3 separate regions of the Homo sapiens genome follow, and all the other regions are linked to region 1. Evidence: fine-mapped expression QTL. A gene starts in region 1. Each other region holds a variant in brackets. All regions are shown on one strand. Distances are between the middles of the regions. Region 1 holds the start of CTPS1 (CTP synthase 1). Region 2 overlaps SCMH1 (Scm polycomb group protein homolog 1). Region 3 has its middle 24 kb from the start of CTPS1.

Region 1 (8,193 bases):
GAGCTCTGCTTTTGTTCTAAACAACTTTGTGAAACTGCACATATTTACCCCATTCTTTTGTTGCACATTCATTCCATGAAACTTCACTCTAGAAATTTTGCCCAGAATGATTCATTCCTACCATCACAATAGGAGACAAGCTCAAACACAGGAAAGGAAAAAAAGTCTCATTTTCTCCCTCAGAGAGATAACTCATCCTCTGCTCAAGAATTCTGTATTAAATATCACTCAGGTATATGGATCTTTTCCTGATGCCATTTGTTACGAGGATTTCTGCACTAGTGACATTTAATGCTTGCATATTTTCACCTCAACGCTAGAGAGTAGGAGTACGAATGCAGAATTTTAAAACTTAAGAGGTATGTTTTAACATCTCTCCCAGTTTTAAGCAATTAATCTTTGAAGTAACAGCCACAGCTGTATGTCACACCATTGACAGGTTCTCAATAACAACAAAGAAGTAAAAGGCAGTCGGGCATGGTGGCTCACACCTATAAAACCCAGCACTTTGGGATTACAGGTGGGAGGACCCAAGACCAGCCTGGACAACACAGTGGAACCCCACCTGTACAAAAAATTTAGAAATTAGCCAGGCATGGTGATTTACACCTGTAGTCCCAGCTACTCAGGAGGCTGAGGTGAGAGGATCGCTTGAGCCAAGGAGGTGGAAGCTGCAGCGAGCCATGATCACACCACTACACTCCAGCCTGAGGGACAGAGTGGGATCCTGTCTCAAAGAAAAAAAAAAAAAAAAAGAATTCTGCTTCTTCCTTTCTAGGTGAGAAAAGTATCATTCTGCTGTATTAAGGGACCTGTTAGAAGGCAGAAAATAAAAGTTATGCAAACCGTGCACATAATTCCCAAGTGCTGACATGTTCTGCCACATGCAATTATTATGAAGAAATCCACTGTGCTTACCATGCTCATAAGGAGAGAATGTTCCTGCATCAATGTTAATGTAGGGGTCAATTTTGATTGAAGTTACATGTAAACCACATGACTTGAGTATTGTGCCCACACTGCTGGCAATGATTCCTTTTCCAATTCCTGATATAACACCACCAGTAACCAGAATGTACTTCATTTTACTCTTTGACCTGGAAGAAGGAAAAATTACAGATGATATAAATGTATCTCAACAAACCAAACTCATCTGGGTTCAAACACTGGCTCTGCCAATTATTAGCTATGAACCCTCTTGAAGCCTCAGTTTCTCTGTCACAGGACTTCAGAAGGTTCTCGTCAGGTTTAAATAGGATCAAAACAAACATTTCTTGGATCACTGAATGGCTTTAGTCAAATACGTGTAGAAAAACAACTGCTACTCTAATAACACAGCTTTTGTTTAAAGCTTTGACAACTAATAACCTTCAGAGTCAACCTAATAAAACCAGCTCTAAGCTGGCTGATAGAACACTACACCCCAAATGTTTGCTGACATCACTGCCAGACACTGGGATACCAGGCAGGTGCCTCATTATTTTCCCTACATGGGAAAAAAATTCAAACTTGGATAAGTACTCCAGTTCTCCAGGAAATAAATAATGTCTTTGGCTAAACTACAACATATCATCAAGAAAACACAGCTCCTCTAGGTTACAAAAGATAGACTAAAAGGAAAGAACATCAACATTTAAAAGTGGTTGCAGCTAAACCAAAATTCCTTTAATTAAAAGTAGTTCTCTGGCTGGGCATGGTGGCTCATGCCTGTAATCCCAGCACTTTGGGAGGCAGAGCCAGGAGGATCACTTGAGGTCAGGAGTTCGAGACCAGCCTGGCCAATATGGGGAAACCGCATCTCTACTAAAAATACAAAAATTAGCCGGCTGTGATGGCGCACGCCTGTAGTCCCAGTTACTCAGGAGACTGAGGCAGGAGAATCGCTTGAACCCAGGAGACAGAGGTTGCAGTGAGCTGGGATCATGCCACTGCACTCCAGCGTGCGCGACAGAATAAGACTACCTCAAAAAAAAAGAAAAAGTAGTTCTCTTCTATAATTTAACAACAACTTGCTCCTTGTCAGAAATCTCTCCCAGGCATGCAATGAAGAGAGACTGTAAATACTGGGGGAGAGGGACATCAGATAAGAAACCAGTCTGAAGCACATGACGGGCAGAGGACTCAAAGAGAGGGGAGATGAGATTAAATCCAAAAAGCAGTGCCACGGTGGCAGGGAAAGGAGAAATAAGATATAAGGGCAGCAGAGTCAAGATGCAGGTGAAAACAGCATCGACAAGAGGTGAGGAGACCGTGACAGGCTCACCACGGAGGATTTATCACTGGTCCCCAGCTTCAGAGGTCCAGGATCGTCCATTTGGTCAGCAAACCCAAATGTGACCAAAATGAAAAACACAATTAGAAAGTAGCAGAAAATGCTTACTTTGGCATGGTCAGGACATTTTCCTCCTCAGGAACGTTCCATGTGAAGCCAAATTATGATAAAAATAAACTAAGGAACAAGAAAACTAAGGAGTTGTGCTCGAAGCATTCCCCCGCCCCACCCCCTCCCCAGAGCAAGAAAGAACACACTTGGCAGGGAAGGAAGAATGCTCAGAAGTCTTCCCCGCTCCAAAGGCTCTTTGCATCCTCTGCTGCAGCATTTCCAAAAGCATGCTCCCTGGTTTCAACAAAATGCACATGGGATTCTCAAAAAGGGTGTTATGGATATAAATCAGAGAAACGCTGATTAAACCAAGTCATTTAACGCAAGAATCCTGGGAGTGTTTAGCAAGTAAACTCGCACTGTGATCACTGCTATACAGTATGCGGTGTCTCCAAGCTTATCTGACCCTAAGTCTCTCACTTTACAGTTCCTTATTGACACATGAAAATCAGTCTTAGGTACATTTTAGATATGTTCTAACCAGACATATACCTTACTGAGACTATACCCTGGTCTCCCTAAGTTTTGGATGATCCTAGAAATTCCTCTGCCACCGAGTGAGTTACTTCTACAAAAGATTCATCTCATCCAATTACATTTGATTTGTCCCAATTTTACTCTAAGAGTTTAACATCTCTCTTTACGTTCTTTAGTTTCTCTCTTTAGATTCTTGCAGTCTCAGTGCCTGGCAATACATATGCCAGTGTACATAAAGATCAGGCGGGAGGCTCATTCATTCATCCTTATGGGCTACTGACTTACATGACAGCTACTGTGCTTGGGGACTGCAAACATTAATCAGATTTGGGCCCATATCTCAACTTTCTGGCAGTCCAGTTGGAGAGATGAAACATTAACAAATAAATGAGTAATTCAGTGACGGTGGAAGCAGACAGAAAACATGTTTAGACTATAAAGGGGGACGATGAGAGCAGACGCTTTCAGTACCATGGCCATCAGAGGAAGGTGAGACAAGTCCTGGGGGTAGTGGGCGGATCCAGGCGGCTCCTGTTTTGTAGATATGACTTGCAATGGGCCTTGAAGGACTGACTGCACGACTCAGAGCACAGGAAAGGGAACAGGGTGAACAGGCAGGTGCAGGGCAGCTACAGAGAACAGAGGTAAGGCCGTGAGGGGGAAGGCGGGGAAGCAGGGATATACAGTGGAAGATAAACTGGAAAGGTAGGCAAGGGCCAGATCATGTGCAAACTGGCATGCCCAATCTGAACTTAATCCTGAAGGTGACGGAAGGCGCAAGAAGGTTTTCCGGCACAGAAGTAACGTAAATCAAGACGCATCAGAGAAATTCAACAAAGACTGAGGGGGGAAATGCTTTTTCTTTCAATGTTATGAGATGAAGTGCCAGCCCCCATCACTAGTGTGCAGACCTCAATCATGTCACTTGAGCTGCCTGCAACGCGGGTTCTCACCTAGGGGAATGGGGGTGAGAATCTCTGCGCCGCCCGCGTCACAGGGCCGCTGAGGATTCGAAACTGTAACGAGCGTGGACGGAAGGGCGCCACGCAAACGTGGTGAGCTCTATACACCGCCAGCGCCCCGACCCCCGGCCGCCGGGAAGGGAGGAAGCCGTGAGGCCCAAAGGCCAGCCGCGGGGCCCAGGGCCGGCGAGTTCGCAGGCCCCCTCGTCCTACGGCGCGGAGCTGCCGCGCCCAGCCCCGGGCGGCTGAGCCCGCGCCGAGGCCGGAGGCCCGAGGCCCGCACTGCTTGAATGGATGGGCGACTGCCGGGCTTCCTCGCAGACGAAGAGCAAGGGCGGAGGGTGTGGGGGGGGGCGCCGCTCCACTCCCCTACGGCCTTCTCCGTCCGACGAGCCCGGCCGAGCTGATTCGGCGCGGCCCAGCGCGGCAGCGCAGGCCCCGCAGCCTCTGAAGCCGCCCCGCGCCCCGCTTGGCCCCTCTCCCCAGCGCCGCCCGGCCACGAGGCCCGCGCGCGGGAGCCGGCAGCTCGCCGGCCGGGGCGCCCGCCCCACTCCCGTTAGGCACACAGCCCATTGGGCAGGACGCCGAGTCACCTCGCCCCTGATTGGTAGGAGCGACGTCCGTCACCGCGGCGGCGGGGCTATTCGGCGCCGGGCTCAGCTCGCGCCGCTGACTCCTGCGCGGGAGAACAGATCCCCCCCGGGATCCCTGGAGTCAGCCTACCTGCGGCCGGCTTCAGATCCTCCCGTCAGCGACAGAGCTGGGCCGGCGACGCGCGCGGAGCCCCGGACAGCCAGTGAACAACCCCGACCGCATGCGCCCGGCAGTCTTTCACGGAGGCGGGCTCTAGGCTGTGCGCACGCAGAGGTTGGAGGGCGGGCCGGGCCTGGAGGGCGCGGGGCGGGGCGGGGCCTGGAGTGCGCAGGCGCGGGACAGGACCGCTGGGCCGCCTCCGCTGAACTGTGCCGCCGTAGGTTCGAGGCCGGGCGGGTGGTGGCGTGTCTGCCCCTCTGCTTCCGTCCCAGCCTGTGGCCCAAGCTTACTCTCTTGAAGGGGAGGAGGCTGTTTGGGAACTCACGCCTGGCCTATTCGTCACCTGGCCTCGCGTCCTCCCACAGCGGTCTCCTGGAGTTCTGGGCGTCGCCTTCCATCCGATGGTCTTTCACTGTGGGCTCCTGGCGGTGATGCGCCAGCGCATCTCTGCCTCCGGGCGAGGGACGGCGGCAGCGCCACCCTGGCCTCCAAGACGGAAGTGCGGAGGGTCGCGCGGCGTTGGCTCCTCGTCGGCCTCCCTCCTCCCCACACCTGCCCCGAAGGCGGCTGCTTTGGATGGACTAGGATCCCGAAAAGTACGGTTTCATCTAGCTATCGCTCCCTGAGCACCGACTGTGCCACGCACTGTGCTGGGCACCGAGGGACCCTCTCCTCGGACTAACGATGTAGGGAGGCACACTGAGCAGCTCATTACACTTTATGGTTGTTATGGGTGCTTGCTGCAGAGATGCTGGTGCCGGGGCAGTGAGTGCCCAGCGCGGGGACTGACCCAAGTCCGGTGGTGATTGGGAATTCAGGCGGGAAGCCCGCCCTGAAAAAGTAACTTTGAAGCAGAGACCTAAGTAGACGGCAAAGATGGGAAAGGGAGAGGCGGGGATAAGAAAGTGAGACATGCTTGAGCCCAACAGTTCGAGACCAACTTGGGTAACATAGCGAGACCCCGTTTCTTATAAAAATAATAATAGTAGGCCGGGCGCAGTGGCTCACACCTGTAATCCCAACATTTTGGGAGGCCGAGGCAGGCGGATCACAAGGTCAGGAGTTCAAGACCAGCCTCGCCAATATGGTGAAACCCCGTCTCTACTAAAAATACAAAAATTAGCTGGGCGTGGTGGTGGGTGCCTGTAGTCCCAGCTACTCAGGAGGCTGAGGCAGGAGAATAGCTTGAACCTGGGAGGTGGAGGTTGCAGTGAGCCAAGATTGCACCACTGCATTCCAGCCTGGGCGACAGAGCGAGACTCCTTCTCAAAGAATAAATAAATAAAATAAAAATAGTAATAATAATTTTTTTTTAAAAGTGAGGCAGAAGGAAAAGCCTGTGTACAAGCCCAAAGAGGCCGGCACAGCTGAATTGGAAGGCCAGTCTAGCCAAGTCCACAAGGGCCACAGGAAGCGAGATTAACATGAGATTAGGTTGAAGAGTTGGGTAGGGCCATACGGTGAAGAGCATTATAGACCAAGTAAAGGCTTCTCTTTCTCCTAGGGATAGTGGAAAGCTGTAGAAACTTTTGAGAGGCTTTTGACCTTCCTTTGAATAGTGAATATATGTACATGGTTATAATTTTTCCCCAAACACTACACAAGGGTATCCATGAAAAGTAAATCTCTTATTTCTGTACCCCAGTGTTCCTGTTTTGTTCTCTAGAAGCAGTCTGCCACAAGTTCTTAACTATCTTCACTGAAGGAGTTTTAAAAAAAAAGATGTGATGGGATCAGATTTGTGTTTTAGGAAAATCATTGAAGCAGATGGATTCCCAGAAACCAGGTCAGGAGGCTCCTGCAGTGGCCTCTTTTAGAGGCTTCTGGCTCCTTCCAGATCTGGATCACCAGTGCTTCAACCCTGACAACCTGCCCATGCTGCATTCAGCTCCAAATCTAAAAAATGTTTGGAATGCCAGGCATAGTGGCTCACACTTGTGATCCTGACACTTTGGGAGGCTGACACAGGGTGGGAGGATTTCTTGAGTCCAGGAGTTCAAGACCAGCCTAGGCAATATAGTGAGACCCCATCTCTACAAAAAATACAAAAATTAGCTGAGCATGGTGGCACGCATCTGTAGTCCTGGCTACTCCAGAGCCTGAGGCTGGAGGAATGCTTGAACCCAGGAATTCAAGGCCAATGGGAGCTAGGATCCCACCACTGCACTCCAGCCTGGGCAGAGTGAGACTCTATCTCAAAAAAAAAAAAAAAAAGTTTGGGTTGTCTTTGAAGGTACTCTACAGCCACATCTTCTTTCAAGAAGCATTTGATGTTTATCAAAGTGCCTGGAACATAACAGATGCTGAGAACATACTTGCTGAGGTAATGAAGATGCTATGGGAGATGGAAAAATGAGCCATTCACCCAACCACTCCTCTGAATGACCACTTGACATTGTCTTCTTCCTCAAAGCTCTTCCATCTCCTCCCCCATATTCTCCTCAGCTGGTGGTCTTGCTTCCCATTTCACGAGAAAATAGAAGCCATCAGTAGATTTTTCATATCCACCAACCACTTTTATCTGCGCACAAGCTCTGCGTTGTCTCCTGTTACTGTGGACAAACTGCCCACACTCCCAGAGGTCAACCTCCTCTTTGCTCCAAGTGCCATATCCATTTGTCAACTCAAAGAATGTCTAGTATGCAAGTGCCATATCCTTTCATCAACTCAAGAATGTCTAGTAGAATGTCCCTTCCTGCGTCATCAGTCTTTCCCTGTCTAGTAGATCTTTTCCACTACCGTGATGCAAACATGCTGCAATTTGTTCCATCTTAAAACCCCTCTCCTGACTCTATGCCATTCTCTAGCTCCCCCTCCATTTCTGTTTCACTTTTCAGCACAACTCCTAAAAAATGTTGTTTGTACTTTGCTGTCTCAATTTCTTCCCTCTCTTGAACTCATTCCAATCTGGATATTTTGCTCATATAATTTCACTGAAACTGATCTCGTCAAAAATTAACCTCCATGTTCTCAGACCTCTTCTTTGTACATCAGCCTAGACTCCAATCTCTAATGTCCGTAAGTCCCAAATAAAGACAACAGTGGGCTGGGCGCAGTGGCTCATGCCTGTAATCCCAGCACTTCGGGAGCCTGAGATGGGTGGATCACAAGGTCAGGAGTTCGAGACCAGTTTGCAAATATGGTGAAACCCCGTCTCTACTAAAAATACAAAACTTAGCCAGACGTGGTGGCAGGCGCCTGTAGTCCCAGCTACTCAGGAGGCTGAGGCAGGAGAATCACTTGAACCTGGGAGGCGGAGGTTGCAGTGAGCCAAGATTGCACCACTGCACTTCAGCCTGGGCGACGAGCGAGACTCCGTCTCAAAAAAAAAAAAAAATAGACAACAGTGTGGCTGTATGTGCATGGCATGAATGCATATGTGTGTGTGCACGTGCGCATGTGTATGTATTTACATATTTGGGCTGCTTCTCTCCCCCACCATAGGCCCAGTCTCCTTTTGGGCTCCTAGGTGCAGCTATACAGCCCCAGAGCTGCCCCCAAACTGACCACTTCCCTAAGAGCATTTGTCACAGCTGATCATTTCCTCCTTAAAAGGTGGGTGTCCTTTACTTGGCTTCTAGGAAACCACTTGCTGTTCATTTTTTCCTATTTCACAGG
Region 2 (8,193 bases), 180 kb before region 1:
TCCAGATGGCCCACCGCTGCCATCACAAATACAGTTACATTCTGCGGTACTGCGGAGTGGGGACCTTAGCATGAAGTTTTGGAGGATACAGTTGAGCCCATAACTGGGGTGCTGTTTGTTTTTAGTGTTTTAAATAATTGTGATCATTCCATGAATATAATTTTTATCCCCATATTTTACCTAATAACATAACATAACCATTTTCCCATTTGTTCTTTAGCCTTTTAAAAATTTAACAGCTTCAAAATACTTTGTCAAGTGTTTGTATTATCAAATCTTAATCAGTCTTCTATTTTGAACATTTAGGTGTTCCTTTTTTTGTTATTGTAAACAATGCCAAGGCTTTTTACATAAAACCTTTTTCTTGTATTTTGGAGTATTTTTCCTTAGCATAGAATCTCGGAAGTGGATTACTTTATTAAAAACTGTTAATACATACTGCCAAATTGGAAAAGTATTTAATCTTATACTTTCTTTCCACATGACTATTTTTCTCTCCCTCTGCAGTGATAGACTGGAGTGATGTTAGAAAACACAAATATGGTCACCTATCAGAGTCTGCATCCCAATATCAAGGTAAGGGGGAAAAAACTCCGTTTGGTGTGGAAAAATTTTACTCGGCATCTTTTCCCATAAAACCTTCGTTGTTAGAGGTCTGAGTTTACAAATAACTCAATTGTTATATCAGAAGCAAATATTGCAGTTTACAGAGGTATTGGTCATAAGCAATATACTTTGTTTTAGCTGGAAATAGGAAACCTAGATTCTGAGTATAGGTAATCCCAAATTAGCTTCATAGTTTTAGGCACGGTTGCTTAGCCTCTCTGGGTTTTCTATAGTTTGTATAAGTTTAGGCTTGGGAATAGGCAAAATTGGGTGGTGTGCTTCCACAATGACTACTAAGAATCTCAGTGTCTTTTAGGATGAGATAACTGAACTAGACAAATACTCGATTTCCTATTTTACCCCAGAATTTCACCTTCCATCATGTTGGTATGTTTGTCTTAATGACTTATGCTCCAACATTTTTTTCTTTACTAGAAGCTGCTGACATCCTGGATCTAGGTAAGCTATTTTTCTTGTGTTTCTGTTAAATAAGGGGAATTGGTAAACCAGGGATTAGATTATAACCAGTTTTAACCAACGAGGAAAAGAATTCCACGTGTCTCTGTCTCAGAAACCAGTGAATCCTGTGCTCTTGTCTGCCTAATTATCCCATGTACTTCATCTCAGCTGTCACATCAAGTCCTGCTTATCAGTAGGCCACAGACCAAGCTAACAAGAAGGGAGGGAAGGTGGTTAATTACATGGGGTATAGGGGAGAACAGGAACTGAACCAAACTGGAAATACCATCTTAATTTACTGAATCCAGAACTAAAACAAACCCCTGCCATCCATAAATCAGTGTTTGGTGGGATTTTTCCCCCAAAAAAATTACTTGTAAGATAAATTGAACTGAAACTAAACCTAAACATTTTCTAACTTTATTGACAAATAAAAACTGAAATATTAAAATATTATCAAGTAAGAAGTCAGACCAATAATTGCATTTGGTTTTCCTCCCTGGTTAGTGTATTTCAGGACTAAGATTTGAGTAATAAAACTAGTTCTAATACTTCTCAATCAGAGTTCCTGCATAAACATCAGTCTTAACATTTTAGAATCCTTTAAAATCCTTTTATATGTTACATAGATTTTGATATCCAGATACCTGTATCAATTTTTGTTCAAGTATTTTGATATATTTTGTTACAACTTGATATTTATTTAGCTCTATTATTATCATTGTCTATTTGCCTCCTCTTGCCTTTCTTTCCTGCAACATATTACTTTCCATTGCCCAGTGACACAGAAGATAACATGAAGTAGTAGAACACTAGACTAGGAGTCAGAACTCCTAGGCTTTTTGAGAGCCAGTTCTGCCACTTAGTAACTTTGTGACTCTGATCCTTAGTTTTCTTATTTGTAAAATGGGGATAATAATCCCATTCTGCCTACTTCACAGGGTTGTAAAGAAGATTACATGAGCTAATGGATGTGAAAACATCTTAAAAACTCTCAAATACTTTTCAACTTTGGAGGATTATTATGATTTTCATTCTGTTCAGCGGCTATACTCAGACTTTACTCTAAAAGTCAAATCTTCTGACATTCTTTGAAGTGAAGCATTCTATGAATGTGAGCTGAAGAAATGAATGAAATGAAATAATGCAGGTAAAGGTGCCTGGCACTTGATAAATGATAGTTATTTTTTATTATTCTTTAAAACTTTCCTCAAGCTTTTTAAGGTACTGATGTGTGGTAGAAAAAACATGGACATAGGAGTCAGACAATTTGAACCAAGGTTCAAATTCCTATTCCCACTTACCAGTTTTGTGACTTCAGGCAAATTACTTAATCTTTCTAAGCCTATTTCCTCATCTTTAAAATGGGAGTAAAACCTACTTTGCAGGTTATAATGAACACAGGAGATAATGGACGTAGTCTGGCATGGTACAGGCAAATGGAAGACAGTGATAGCTGCTGTTGTTTTTGGTTTTGTCGCTAATATGAATGATAATAACAATTGTAGCTCAGTGACAGCTTAAGGCATATTGTAAACTGTTGATGGGGAGTTGTGAAATGTGGGTACTCAATTTAACATAGAGTATATCAGTTACTAAAAGATGTTAAAATTTGAAAGTGTATTTTTCCTAGAGCATTGGTTGCATAGGCATATCCTCTGATGTAAGTTAATCCTGCATATTTCATTTTTACCATCTAGCATAAGGAGCAGCTCCAAATAGCAAACTGAAATAAAATTCAGTAGATCTGTGGAATCTCAAAGTTGGAAAAGACCATAAAATAATCTACCCTTGCCCAGCATTTAAAACTCAACATTTTGAATTTTTTGTAAAATGTCTTATCTTGAACTCCTCAAGTTTTTGAGGACTTAGAACCTCCTCACGTAATTCATTTCATATTTAGACATATTTATTGGTCAAAAATTTGCTCTTTTTGTAATTTCTGTTAGTCATCCCTCTGACTTTCTGGCCATATGAAACAGGGTTAGCCTATTTTTCACTTACTGGCCCTGATTTTTAGAGAGAAGCTCTAGGGACTGCCTTCTCATTGCCACTCTGCCGCTTTCATAGTTGAATCTCACACCTAGATTATTAAAACAGCTTCCTAACTAGTCTTTTTTGCCTCCAGCCCTATCACCCTCCTGCCCATTCTTTACACTACAGCCAGAATGACTTCACCCCAAACGCTTGAAGACTTCCTCTTCTCAGTAATACAGTATATTTGGCTCGCTAATGACTGAACACTGCCTTTATCTGTAACCTTTTTCTAAACTACTTTTTCTGTAAACTCCACCCAGCAGCCATACCAAAAGATCTGCATTTAGAACTGCTTTTTCTCATGTCTGGGCCTTTATAATGCCTTTCTTTCTGTCTGAAACAAACAAAAAGAGTTTCCTTTTTCTTTGACTCCTGCTTATCCTTTTACACTTTAGCTTAGAAGCCTAGAGCTTTCTTTGGTAAGTTTCCACAAGCACTCTGGGTGCTCCTGTAGCACCCTCTGTCTCTCCAGTGTAGCACTTATCACATTATCTTAGTGGTGACTGTTTAGTCTCTGTCCCTCACTAGATTCTCTGTCTGTCACTAGACTGAAGCTCTGTGAGGTTAAGGATGATATTTTGATTACAGTTATATGTCCAGCACTCAGCACAGTGCTTTGACACACACTATAAATATTTGTTGGATGGATGGGGAATGGCTCTGAGACTTCACTTTTTTACTCATGCTAATTGTTCATGTTCCTTCACCTGGTCCTCAGGTGATGTGGTTTTGGGTCTGTTTACCATCACTAGGTAATCATTTAAACTCAGATTTGCTCTCT[C/G]TCAAAGTGTAGTTTTCAGAACTATATCCCAGGTATTATTTTATTAGTCCAAGAAAGAATAGGAATATTACTTGTGTGCTTCTTTTCATTCACTCAGAAACTCATATTGAGCCTCTATTAAATTTCAGGCACTGTGTTAAACAGTAAAGATTTTAAAAATGAATATAAGCCCCCATCCATAAAGAGCTTACATAAATAATTATGGTGATATGATGTGAACAGGATGTTATAGGAGATAGGGAGATGGTAAAATTTGTCCAGCCCTTTTCTGCAAAGCCTTCTGACAGAAAATGTAAAATTTTTGCTGAGCTTTAGTCACTGAGTGTGAGTAACATGGGCAAAGATATGGGACCAAGAAAGCCATGAGTTTTAGGAAACACTAAGGTCCTTTGTAGCTTGAATATTGTGATTCTACATCTGTGAAGCCTCCCAAATCCAGACCTTTCTCATATCAGGATATCTGCCTGGACCTTCGAAAACACCTCTGATTTCTCTGCCTTATCTAAGGCTCTCTTTCTGTTGCCTGAAAGTCTGTGTCTTTTCAGAGGGACCCTGTGGTATAGTGAAAAGAACACTTTCTCTAGATGCTTTATTTCTATTAAGTAAAAATTCTTCTAGTGACTTTTCCTTAATCTACAAAGAACTCCTAGAATCTATGAGAAAACAAAAGAATATCTCAGCAGAAAAATGGCTAAATAAAATACAGACTGGCTGATAAGCCTAAAGAGATCTTTGACTTTATTAGTAATCAAAGAATTGCAAATAAAATTATAATAGTATTTTATTTTTTCACTGATAAGATTTGTCAAAATTATGGAAATTGTTAAAACACAGTTTTAGCAAATATGTGGTAAACACACCTGTGTACTTTCGGTAGGAATAGAAATTGAGTCTGGGCAATATAGTGAGACCTTGTCTCTACTACAAAGAAAAAAATTAGCCAAGCATAGTGGTGCACACCTGTAGTCCCGGCTACTCTGGAGACTGAGCGGGGAGGGTTGCTTGAGTCCAGATCGGGGTTACAGTGAGATATGATTGTGCCACCACACTCCATCCTGGGTATCTGAGTGAGGCTTTGTCTCAAAAAAAAAAAAAAAAAAAAAGTTGGCTTATACTTGTAATCCCAGCACTTTGGGAGTCCGAGGCAGGAAGATGACAAGCCTAGGAGTTTGCAACTAGCCTGGGCACCATAGGGAAACCCTGCCTCTAAGAAGAAAAATCAGTATGTTCTTTCTAGAGGATATTTCAGCAATATATATGTTGTATCAAAATCTAAACTATGCATGCTCTTTGTCCACTAATCCCACCCTTAGGACAAATCCCAAATCTGTGTCTCATGCCTGTAATCCCAGCACTTTGGGAGGCCGAGGCAGTTAGATCACTTGAGCTCAGGAGTTCGAGAACAGCCTGGGCAATTTGGCATAGCCCTGTCTCTACAAAAAATACAAAAATTAGCTAGGAATGGTGGCACACACCTGTAGTCCCAGCTACTAGGGAGGCTGAGATGAGAGGATCGCTTGAGCCCGGGAGGTCAAGGCTGCAATTAGCTGTGTTCACACCACTGTACTCCAGCCTGACACTGACTCAAAGCAAGACCCCGTCTCAAAAAAAATAAAATAAAGACACTTAAATTACCATCAGTGGCGTTTAACAAATATATTGTTATTTAAATTTTGGTACATGGAACACTATTTATACGGTAATAGTGGAGTGGAATTTCTGATCTAAAGATGTTGATTATGCTTAATTGTTTTTAAGAATTTGGGTTCACATTTAGGTTGAACAAAGTAGAGTTCTTGTAAAGGAATGTGGCCAGAACAGTAGCCAGACATGAGTAGCCAGCCTGTCAAATTAGGAGCAGTTGAGGGATTTGGGACATAGAGATTAGATATATCTAGGACCAGTAGAGGTTAGAAGGCAGATGTTGGCTGACTATAAAGAGCGGTCTGTCCATTTGTACTGTTGAGTAATAGCTAAATAGCTAAATAATGAGTGTCCCATGACTGGAAGTATTTCAGCAGAGGCTGGAAGGACCATTCAAATCTCAGCTTTTTTTTTTTTTTTTTTTTTTTGAGACGGAGTCTTACTCTGTCACCTAGGCTAGAGTGCAGTGGTGCGATCTTAGCTCATTGCAACCTCCACCTCCCGGGTTCAAGCAGTTCTCCTGCCTTAGCCTCCCAAGTAGCTGGGATTATAGGTGCCTGCCACCACGCCCAGCTAATTTTTGTATTTCTTTTAGTAGAGACGAGGTTTCATCATGTTGGCCAGGCTGGTCTTGAACTCCTGACCTCAGGTGATCTGCCCGCCTCAGCCTCCCAAAGTGCTGGGATTACAGGAGTGAACTACTGCGCCCGGCCCAAATGTCAACTTTTGTATCACCTTATCAAGATGTCTTTTTTGACTGCCCTGGCTAAAATAGCACACCTTCTTTACCTCTTACTTTTATTTTTTTAAATTTCAAAATAGCCAGGAATTGTATAATTAATCTGGTGTCTCTGTTACCCTCTGGACCAGCTGACGTATTTGTTTGTTTGTTTGTTTGTTTGTTTTTGCTCCATGTGGAGCAAAATATTGTTTGTTTGTTTGTTTGTTTGTTTTTGCTCCATGTGGAGCAAAACATTGTTTGTTTGTTTGTTGTAAGCTCCATGTGGGCAAACTTTGGCTGTATTGTATTTTGCTATATATCACCAGTGCCTAGAACCAGGCTTAACATATACTAGGTATTTAGTAAATATTTGCTGAATGAATGAATATTAGAGAAGGTGATTCATGCATTTAACTAGGTGACCTCTTATGCCCATATTTTATGGGCCAAGGTACTTTAATGCCATTTTTAAGTCTCTTCAGGGCAGGTACCTTTTTTTCTTTTTTAATAATAAATGTAACTATCACGTGGTATGCATCAGAGTTTATAAAAACACTTTTATAAGCATTATTTACTAAATGAGATGGCTTTTTCTCATCTGTAAAGTCTTAGCTTAGACATTTCCTCTGAAGAGTATCTGTCCATGACTTTACTAAGATAGCTCCCAGTCTCTATCACATCACCTCATTTTATTCCCTTCAAGTTCTTTTCACTTACTGCCTTGTTTATTTATTGTTTATGTGTTAGTTGTGTCTCATCATATACCAGCATGTAAATGAGGGCAGGGACCCCTGTCATATTGCCTGGCACATAGAGGATAGTTAATAAGTATCTGTTGAATGAATAATTGAAAACATTCAAATTATACTGTTTGAATATTTTGAATTATAATGTTGGAATAATTGAAAACACTCACATTATATATGTTTAAATTATAAAACATTATACCTATGTTAGTTAATAATATTAATCTTCGTAATAATCTCTGAGCCCAAGGATGAATGAGATTTTCATGTTCTGCAATCTCAAGACAACCTGTACTACCTCGTAAACTTTATCATTATCATAACAGATTATTTGTGTTATGTTTATTAATGTCTCTGTTTATCTCTAGACTGAAAGCTCCATGAATTGAGAAATCATGTCTTACCTTGTTCCCCTAACATTTAACACAGTTCTTTGTACTTGGAGAAGTTTAAATATTTATTGAATGAAGAATCTATATACAATCTTGTAAGACAGATATTGTCTTCATCTTTCACATGAGTAAACTTAGGCTTGGAAGGATTAAGTAATTTACCCAAGATAGTTAGCTGTAGAAACAAGACTTTTACCAACATCTTCAGACTCCCAATATTACATTATTTAAACTACACCAGTAGTAGTTCTTAGTCACAGATGTTAATCCAAATTACCTAGGGAGCCTTGGAAAATACATATTCTCAGGCCACACTTGGAGCCTACTGAATAAGAACTTCTGAAGGTGAGGCCCAGAACTTTGTTTAAAGAAATGAGACTATAAGTATCACTTGAGAGTCAATGATTTATACCAGAGGTCTGGCAAACTACTATTGGGAGGTCAAATCCAGCCCTCTGCCTGTTTGTGTAAATAAAGTTTGAGTGGAACAGCCATGCTAATTTAGGCACACATACTGTCTGTGGCTGCTTTCACACTGGAGTGGTGGAGCTGAGTAGCTATGACATAGACTGTATGGCCTAGAAAGCATAAAATTTTTATTATATTGTCCTTAACAGAAGACTTGCTAACTCTGGATCTATACCTTGGTGCCTGTCCTATTTCTTTTGTGGTTACTTTAGTGCTTGGAGATATGGCAGAATATTATGTCTGGCTTCATCATGGGCATTACAATAGGTGTCCAAACATTCTTACTAAGTCATAAAAATTATCTTATTTTGCAATTCACCTGATAATAAGGAACTAAGC
Region 3 (8,193 bases), 25 kb after region 1:
TGTATTGCGGCTGGGCGCAGTGGCTCACGCCTGTAATACCAGCACTTTGGGAGGCCAAGGCGGGCAGATCATCTGAGGTCAGGAGTTTGAGACCAGCCTGGCCAACATGGTGAAAACCCGTGTCACGCGCGTCTGTGTGAAGACAGTCCACCAACAGGCTTTGTGTGAGCAACAGGGCTGTTTATTTCACCTGGGTGCAGGCAGACTGAGTCTGAAAAAAGAGTCAGCAAAGAGTGGTGGGATTATCATTAGTTCTTATAAGTTTGGGATAGGCAGTGGAGTTAGGAGCAATTTTTTGTGGTCAGGGGGTGGATCTCACAAAGTATATTCTCAAGGGCGGGGAGAATATTACAAAGTACCTTCTTAAGGGCGGAGGAATATCACAAAGTGCATTAGGAGGATGTGTTGTCATAAAGTCAATCGATCAGTTAGGGTGGGGCAGGAACAGATCACAATGGTGGAATGTCATCTTTTGTGGTTCCTCAGTTGCTTCAGGCCATCTGGATGTATACGTGCAGGTCACAGGGGATATGATGGCTTAGCTTGGGCTCAGAGGCCTGACACCCGGTATCTACTAAAATACAAAAATTAGTCAGGGTGGTGGCGCGCGCCTGCAATCCAAGCTACTCAGGAGGCTGAGGCAGGAGAACTGCTTGAGCCTGGGAGGTGGAGGTTGCAGTGAGCTGAGATGACACCACTGCACTCCAGCCTGGGCGACAGAGCAAGACTCCGTCTCAAAAAGAAAAAAAATGTATTGCTTGAATCTCAGGATTTTTTGGAACGATCTTGTGAAACCTTGATACCTTGTTGTGGTAGCCACCTGCTGCAAACACAGACTCATCCATTGTGGACACAGATCTTAGTCTATTCAAAATGCTCATTTAGGCCAGGCGCAGCAGCTCACACCTGCAATCCCAACACTTTGTGAGGCCGAGGCAGGAGGATTGCTTGAGGCCAGGAGTTTGAAACCAGCCTAGGCAACATAGCAAGACCACATCTCTATGTTATAGATTTTTTTTTTTTTTTGGCTAAAAAAAAAAGTATCAGATTCAAATAGAGACAATTTCAATCCTTCCGCAAGGTGACTTAACTTCTTCACTCATAACCACTAATCTGGCTTTTATCACTGTGGGTTGGATTTGCCTGTTCTAGGACTTTGCACCAATGGAATCATATAGTACATACTCTTTTTTTTTTGGCTTTTTTCTCTCAGTATCATGTTGGAGAAATCCATCTTTGTTGTTGCTTATGGCTAAAGTTTATTTCTTTTTATTGTTAAATAGTATTCCATTGTATGGATATACCACAATTTCTTTATTCATTCACCTGTTGAACATTTGGGCTGTTTCTAGTTTGGGGCTGTAATGAATAAAGCTGCTACACACATGCTTGCACATGTCTTTTTGTGGGCATATGCACCTGTTGCTATTGAATGAATAGTTAGAACTGGAAACATTGGGTCAGAGTAGGTATATGTTAACTTTAGAAACCTTTTTTTTTTTTTGAAACAGGGTCTCATTCCCATTGCCCAGGCTGGAGTGCAGTGGTGCAATCACAGCTCACTGCAGCCCCCACTTTCCAGGCTGAAATGATCTTCCCGCCTCAGCCTCCTGAGGAGCTGGGACTACAGGTGTGCACCACCACACCTGGCTAATTTTTGTATTTTTTGGTGGAGACAGGGTTTCATCATGTTGCCCAGGCTAGTCTCCAGCTCCTAGGCTCAAGTGATCTGCCCACCTCGGCCTCCCAAAGTGCTGGGATTACAGGCGTGAGCCCCCACACCCAGACCATTTTTTCTTTTCTTTTTTTTTTTTTTTTGAGACGGAGTCTCGCTCTTTTGCCCAGGCTGGACTGCAGTGGCGCTATCTTGGCTCACTGCAAGCTCCGCCTCCCGGGTTCACGCCATTCTCCTGCCTCAACCTCCCGAGTAGCTGGGACTACAGGCGCCCGCTACCACGCCCGGCTAATTTTTTTTTGTATTTTTAGTAGAGACGGGGTTTCACCGTATTAGCCAGGATGGTCTCGACCTCCTGACCTCGTGATCCACCCGCCTCGGCCTCCCAAAGTGCTGGGATTACAGGCGTGAGCCACCGCGCCCGGCCCCATTTTTTCATTTTTAAAAGCAAACAATAACTCATCCTGAAATTCCATCAAGAATCAAACTGTAGGCGTCCAGGCGCGGTGGTTCACACCTGTAATCCCAGCACTTTGAGAGGCCGAGGCAGGCAGATCACTTGAGGTCAGAAGTTCGAGACCAGCCTGGTCAACATGGCCAAACTCTGACTCTACTAAAAATACAAAAATTAGCTGGGCATTGTGGTGCATGCCTGTAATTCCAGCTACTTGAGAGGCTGTGGCAGGAGAATCACTTGAACCCGGGAGGTGGAAGCTGCAGTGAGCTGAGATCATGCCACTGCACTCCAGCCTGGGTGACAGAGCCAGACTCCATCTCAAAAAAAATAAAAAAATAAAAAACAAACTGTATTCATTGTTAACATTAAAAATGAACAGACACTCCCCCAATCAAGAAACAGCAATTGAGAAAATTAACAACATAACTCATTTTCTTTTCTTTCTTTCTTTTTTTTTTTTTGAGACAGAGTCTTGCTCTGTTGCCCAGGCTGGAGTGCAGTGGTGTGATCTTGGCTCACTGCAACCTCCACCTCCTGGGTTCAAGCAATTTTCCTGCCTCAGCCTCCTAAGTAGCTGGGACTACATGTGTGTGCTACCATGCCCTGCTAATATTTGTATTTTTAGTAGAGATGTGGTTTCACCGTGTTGGGCAGGCTGGTCTCAAACACCTGACCTCGTGATTTGCCTGCCTCGGCCTCCCAAAGTGCTGGGATTACAGGCGTGCACCACCATGCCCTGCCCAAAATAACTCATTTTCTATAGGGAAACACATAACATTAAATAATAATATCCATACTTTTATGTTAGAAAAATAAGAGAAAATTATTAAGTTAAAGAAAAGCCAATATTTTATATGTACTTGCAAAATAAAGAAGAATTTATCAGTTGCAGCTGATAAACAGATAAACAAATCATGACTAGGATCATAGTCAGACTATTCTGTGGAGTGTGGGACAATGTGGCCATGACAAAGTCTTTCTGGCGGCAAGTGCTTTGAATAAAATCTTAACCACCAAAATAATTATTACCTAATTCAGGAAGTTCATAGAGGAAGCTATCTAACAGTGTTCAAATATGTTTTGGCTCTTGTCAAATTTTGAGTAGTTGAATAGGTCAACATGCTTGTGGCTCATTTATGGCATGCCAGTTAGAAAGCTCAGTCCTAACTAATAGAAATAGGGTTTCCAAGACAAAATATGTTATGTGGTCAAATAATTTTGGAGAATTCCATGCTAAAGTTAAAATGCACATTGCATGCTGCAGGAATTCTCAGAACCCTTAAGATGCCAGTGCCCGCTGTGATTTTTTTTTTTTTTT[TTTTTTG/G]GCCTTCAAATGGAAGTGGGCAAGGCACAGAAACATGTAGTTTCACGTAAACACAAATGCACAAAAAACATATAAAAATACTCAACCTCACTCATAACTCATATTCACAATAAAACAAGATAGGCCGGGTGTGGTGGCTTATGCCTGTAATCCCAGCACTTTGGGAGGCCGAGGCGGGTGGTGACACCTGAGGTCAGGAGTTTGAGACCAGCCTGACCAACATGGTGAAACCCCGTCTCTACTGAAAATACAACAATTAGCCGGGCGTGGTGGCGCGCGCCTGTAATCCCAGCTATTTGAGAGGCTGAGGCAGGAGAATGGCTTGAACCCGGGAGGCGGAGGTTGCAGTGAGCCGAGATCGCGCCATTGCACTCCAGCCGGGGCAACAGAGTGAGACGCCGTCTCAAAACAACAAAAACCGAAAGAAAACAAGATAGGATTTGTCACGTGGAAGATTGGCAAACTGGAAAAAGCTTTATAACGTCCAGCGCATTTGAGTGGGAACAAGTGCTCTCACAGAATGTAGGAGGCTGTGTAGATCTATAACTCTTTGGAGGAAGTATTGGTTAGGGATGATGCCCACTGGCATGTAACAGAAAGCCAGACTTCATCGAATAGGGATTTGTTAACTTTCAAAAAAAGATATTAAGTCTAGAGACAGGCGTCCCAGGCTAGTGCAGCCTCTCTGCAACATCACCAGGGTCTCAGGCCCCTCCACCATGCTTAGTACAAAGCTTTTACTCTCACATTTGCCTCACTGTGACCTCATGGTTACAAGATGACTGCTTTACCCCCAGCCTCGGGTTCACATTCCAGGCAAAAAGAAGGGAGTGGCAAGGAAGAAAATGTGGTGCCTCTATCAGGAAATGAATGCTTTCTTAGGTGCCTCCAGCTGACTTTTATCGACATTTGAGTATGTGGAACTGGCCGCCCCTAGATGCAAGGAGAGCTGTGGATTTTTTAGCTCAGCACATTGCCTATTTGAGTGAAATCAGATATTGATTTACCTGATCTGGCCTCAGCTGACTATCTCTTCTCTTACGATTCTACTCTGACTTCTGTTCTTCTACCTCACTGACTTTCACAGGTACTGTTAGCATTTTACCCAGATCCTTTTAAGATCCCCTTTTCCTTCATGTTGTGTGTGCCCCCAACTTTGCTAAGCTTTTTCTCTTAACATTTAGTACTTAGTACCCAACACCTAGTACCTAGTACCTATGGCTCTTTGGATAGGGCGCTACTGGAGCCCACTTTGCCCAGAGGAAGTGCCTGAGAATTTACTTGAAAAAGCTCCCTGGGATGACCCTAGCCAGATGTTAATGGGAGGAGAGTTTGAAAGTCTCAGCAACCTTGCCTTAGGTTGGAACAAACACTGAGGTGTAACTTATATGCCAGAGCTCCCCTTCCTACCCGACTCTACCTTACCCCACCCCGCCCCACCCCCGTGGGATCAGGGTGAGACTACCTTCCTCCGGATTTCGCATGAAATCACACGCTTGCTTGGCTTCCTCCTCTTCCCTGCCCTGCTTCCCCTACACCCTTGCTGGTTATTCCCCACCCTACCCCTAAGGGAGCACTAATCAATCACTTATACAGGAATCCTCTCAGAGTCTGCTTCCAGATCGCCTGACCTAAAACACCAGCCAACTTGCAGTTTCTAGAGCATGCTAAGCACGTTCCTATCACAGGGACTTTGCACGCTGCAGGAATACCTCCCCCCAGACACATGCACGGTTCACATCTGCACTTTGTTTGTGTCTTTGCTCAAATGCCACCTTATCAGTGAGTATTTTCTTTTTTCCTTTTTTTTTTTAGACGAGTCTCGATTTGTCGCCCAGGCTAGATTGCAGTGACCCTATCTTGGTTCACTGCAACCTCCACCTCCGGGATTCATGTGATTCTCCTGCCTCAGCCTCCTGAGTAGCTGGGATTACAGGTGTGTGCCACCATGCCCAGCTTATTTGTGTATTTTTAGTAGAGAAAGGGTTTCACCATGTTGCCCAGGCTGGTCTCGAACTCTTGACCTCATGATCCACCCGCGTCGGCCTCCCAGAGTGCTGGGATAACAGGTGTGAGCCACTGCGCCCGGCCATCAGTGAGTATTTTCTTAACCACACTGCCTGAAATAGAACCACTCCATCAACTTCTATCCTTTACCCTGCTTAATTTCTCTATGCAATTTAGCACAGCTTGGCTTAACAGTATTTAATACACAGTATTTTGTTTATTGTCATTCTCTCCTACCATAATATAAGCTCAGAGGCCAGGAACTTCGTCTTGTTTTATTCTCCTCTGTATCCCCTGCACTGGAATTGATTAATGCCTGCCAGAAGAAAGGCCTTGTCCGGGTGTGGTGGCTCATGCGTATAATCCCAGCACTTTGGGAGGCCGAGGTAGACGGATCACCTGAGGTCAGGAGTTCGAGACCAGCCTGACCAACATAGAGAAACCCCGTCTCTATTAAAAATACAAAATTAGCCAGGCATGGTGGCACATGCCTGTAATCCCAGCTACTCGGGAGGCTGAGGCAGGAGAATCGCTTGAACCCTGGAGGCAGAGGTTGCAGTGAGCTGAGATCATGCAATTGCACTCCAGCCTGGGCTTGAAACTCCATCAAAAAAAAAAAAAAAAAGAAGAGGCTGGGCGCGGTGGCTCACGCCTGTAATCCCAGCACTTTGGGAGGCCGAGGCAGGTGGATCACGAGGTCAGGAGATCGAGACCATCCTGGCTAACACGGTGAAACCCCGTCTCTACTAAAAATACAAAAAAAAAAAAAAAATTAGCCGGGCGTGGTGGTGGGTGCCTGTAGTCCCAGCTGCTGGGGAGGCTGAGGCAGGAGAATGGCATGAACCCAGGAGGCGGAGCTTGCAGTGAGCCGAGATAGCGCCATTGCACTCCAGCCTGGGCGACAGAGCGAGACTCCGTCTCAAAAAAAAAAAAGAAGAAGAAGAAGAAAGGCCTCAAGTATATTTGCTGGTTGAATAAATGATTGAATATCTAAGGATCTATGCAGACTTAGGTAGTAGACAGTGGGTTTTAGCTTTGAAGAGGGAAAACAGCTTTGTAGATTCCAGCATTTATTGATACACCAAAGCTGAGTCAGGAGCCCGAAGGAGCTCATGGTCTCAAGGAGGACCCAGACCCCACTCCGCAGTGGCCTGTGCACTAGGCTATACAGACACAATGGAAGAAACAATCGCTTCTGCCTGGGAGAATCCAGGAAGGCTTCACAGAAGAGGCCACATTTGACATTAAAAAGGATCAGTTTCTCTGGAGGAGAAGGTGGGGTTGCAGTCCTGTTAGGAATAGCTTGTAAGAAGGCATAAAGTCCATGACCTGCCTGGTGTGGACAAATTAAAGAGTGCCTGAGGAGAGCCACAGGATACTGAAGGACAGAAAGCAACAGAGTCACCAGAGGACAGCCAAGGACCTTGAATGCTGAGGTTTGTCCAGAAGGCAGTGGAGAGCCAAGTGCGGGGCTTAAGCTGGGAGAAGGGCAAAGGCGAGTAGGGTCAGAGCTGGATTTTAGCAAGTTACTCCTGGTGGTGACATGGACGAGGCTGAGAGGGGAAAACCAGGGGCTGGGAGGTCGGTTGGGGTCTGCCTTGATGTCACCTAATTTCAGCTCCAGGTGCAGAGCTGAGATGTTGGCACCAGAGGGCGCTCTGACCCAGAGCACGGGCCTCCTGCCATTCCCGTTCTGCTCCCGCTGGGCACTCACCTGGCGCTCTCGGAGACAGTTCGCACCTCCAGCCGGGGCCCGACCTGTGTGCTCAGCACACAGGCCTTGGGAAATCTTCTACATTACGTCTTGTTATTTGACTTTGTCTTTCCATGTAATGGCTGAGACTGTGAGGTGCTGCTGGAGGTGCAGTGGGGGAACAAATAGGCAAGATCCCTGCTGTCCTAGACCATGTGGTCTAAGCCAGCGGTTCTCAAAGTGTGTTCCCCGGGTCAGGAGGCCTGGCATCTCCTGTGAATGAGCAGACGCACAGATTCTCGGGACCCACTGCAGACCTGCTGAATCAGACACTCTGGGGCCCGTGGCCAGCAATCTCTGTTCTAACAAGCCCCTCTGGTGATTCTGATGGTGTCAAGGGTGAGAGTTGCTGGTCTAAGAAAACACTGCACACTATAGCAAGTTCCTTCAAAGGACTGATCCAGCAAGCTGCGGAAAGGCACTGACTCAAGGGAGCCAAGGGCCAAGCATAGAAGGCTTCCTGGAGGCAGTGTCTAGGAGTCAACTAGATAAAAAAGGGAGAGAAAGTCATTCCAAAAAGACAGAACAGGCTGGGTGCAGTGGCTCACACCTGTAATCCCAGCACTTTGGAAGGCCAAGGTGGGAGGATGGCTTGAACCCAGAAGTTTGAGACCAGACTGGGCAACATGGCAAGTCCCTGACTCTTAAAAAACAAATTTTTTTTTTAATTAGCCTGGCATGGTGGCTGGCGCCTGTGGTCCCAGCTACTCTGGAGGCTAAGTTGGGAGGATTGCTTGAGCTCAGGAAGTTGAGGCTACAGTGAATCATATTCTCGCCACTGCACTCCAACCTGGGCTAACAGAGTGAGATCCTGTCTCAATCAGTTAATCAGTCAGTTCAAAAAGAGAGAACTGTGCCAAGACCCAGAAGTAGGAGAGCTTAGTCTCTTATTGAACTCCAGCTCGAAGGGACCTGACACAAGGGCTCAGCCTTTGTCCCACGAAGTTCGCTCTTGTGACTTCTAAGTATGGTCTCAT

The links. PIP is the estimated chance that this variant, and not a neighbour inherited with it, causes the effect.
Region 2: its variant is fine-mapped to the expression of CTPS1 in whole blood (TOPMed, PIP above 0.99).
Region 3: its variant is fine-mapped to the expression of CTPS1 in whole blood (INTERVAL, PIP above 0.99).

Annotation. Positions count from the first base shown.
Region 1 is chr1:40,976,182-40,984,374 of GRCh38, reverse strand. It overlaps CTPS1 (CTP synthase 1), which reads right to left and starts at 4,679. Exons shown (of 19, transcript NM_001905.4): 1 at 4,546-4,679; 2 at 919-1,097. The coding sequence starts at 1,084. RefSeq lists an enhancer at 3,681-3,730 and silencers at 3,931-4,070, 4,141-4,430, 4,701-4,890.
Region 2 is chr1:41,153,747-41,161,939 of GRCh38, reverse strand. SCMH1 (Scm polycomb group protein homolog 1) reads left to right here. Exons shown (of 16, transcript NM_001394311.1): 3 at 508-576; 4 at 1,042-1,065. Among named protein-coding and RNA genes, the nearest start is that of SCMH1, 84 kb to the left of the region's middle. RefSeq lists a silencer at 5,112-5,301. The variant C/G (reference allele first, on the strand shown) is at 3,884.
Region 3 is chr1:40,951,590-40,959,782 of GRCh38, reverse strand. No RefSeq gene overlaps it. Among named protein-coding and RNA genes, the nearest start is that of CTPS1, 24 kb to the left of the region's middle. The variant TTTTTTG/G (reference allele first, on the strand shown) is at 3,451.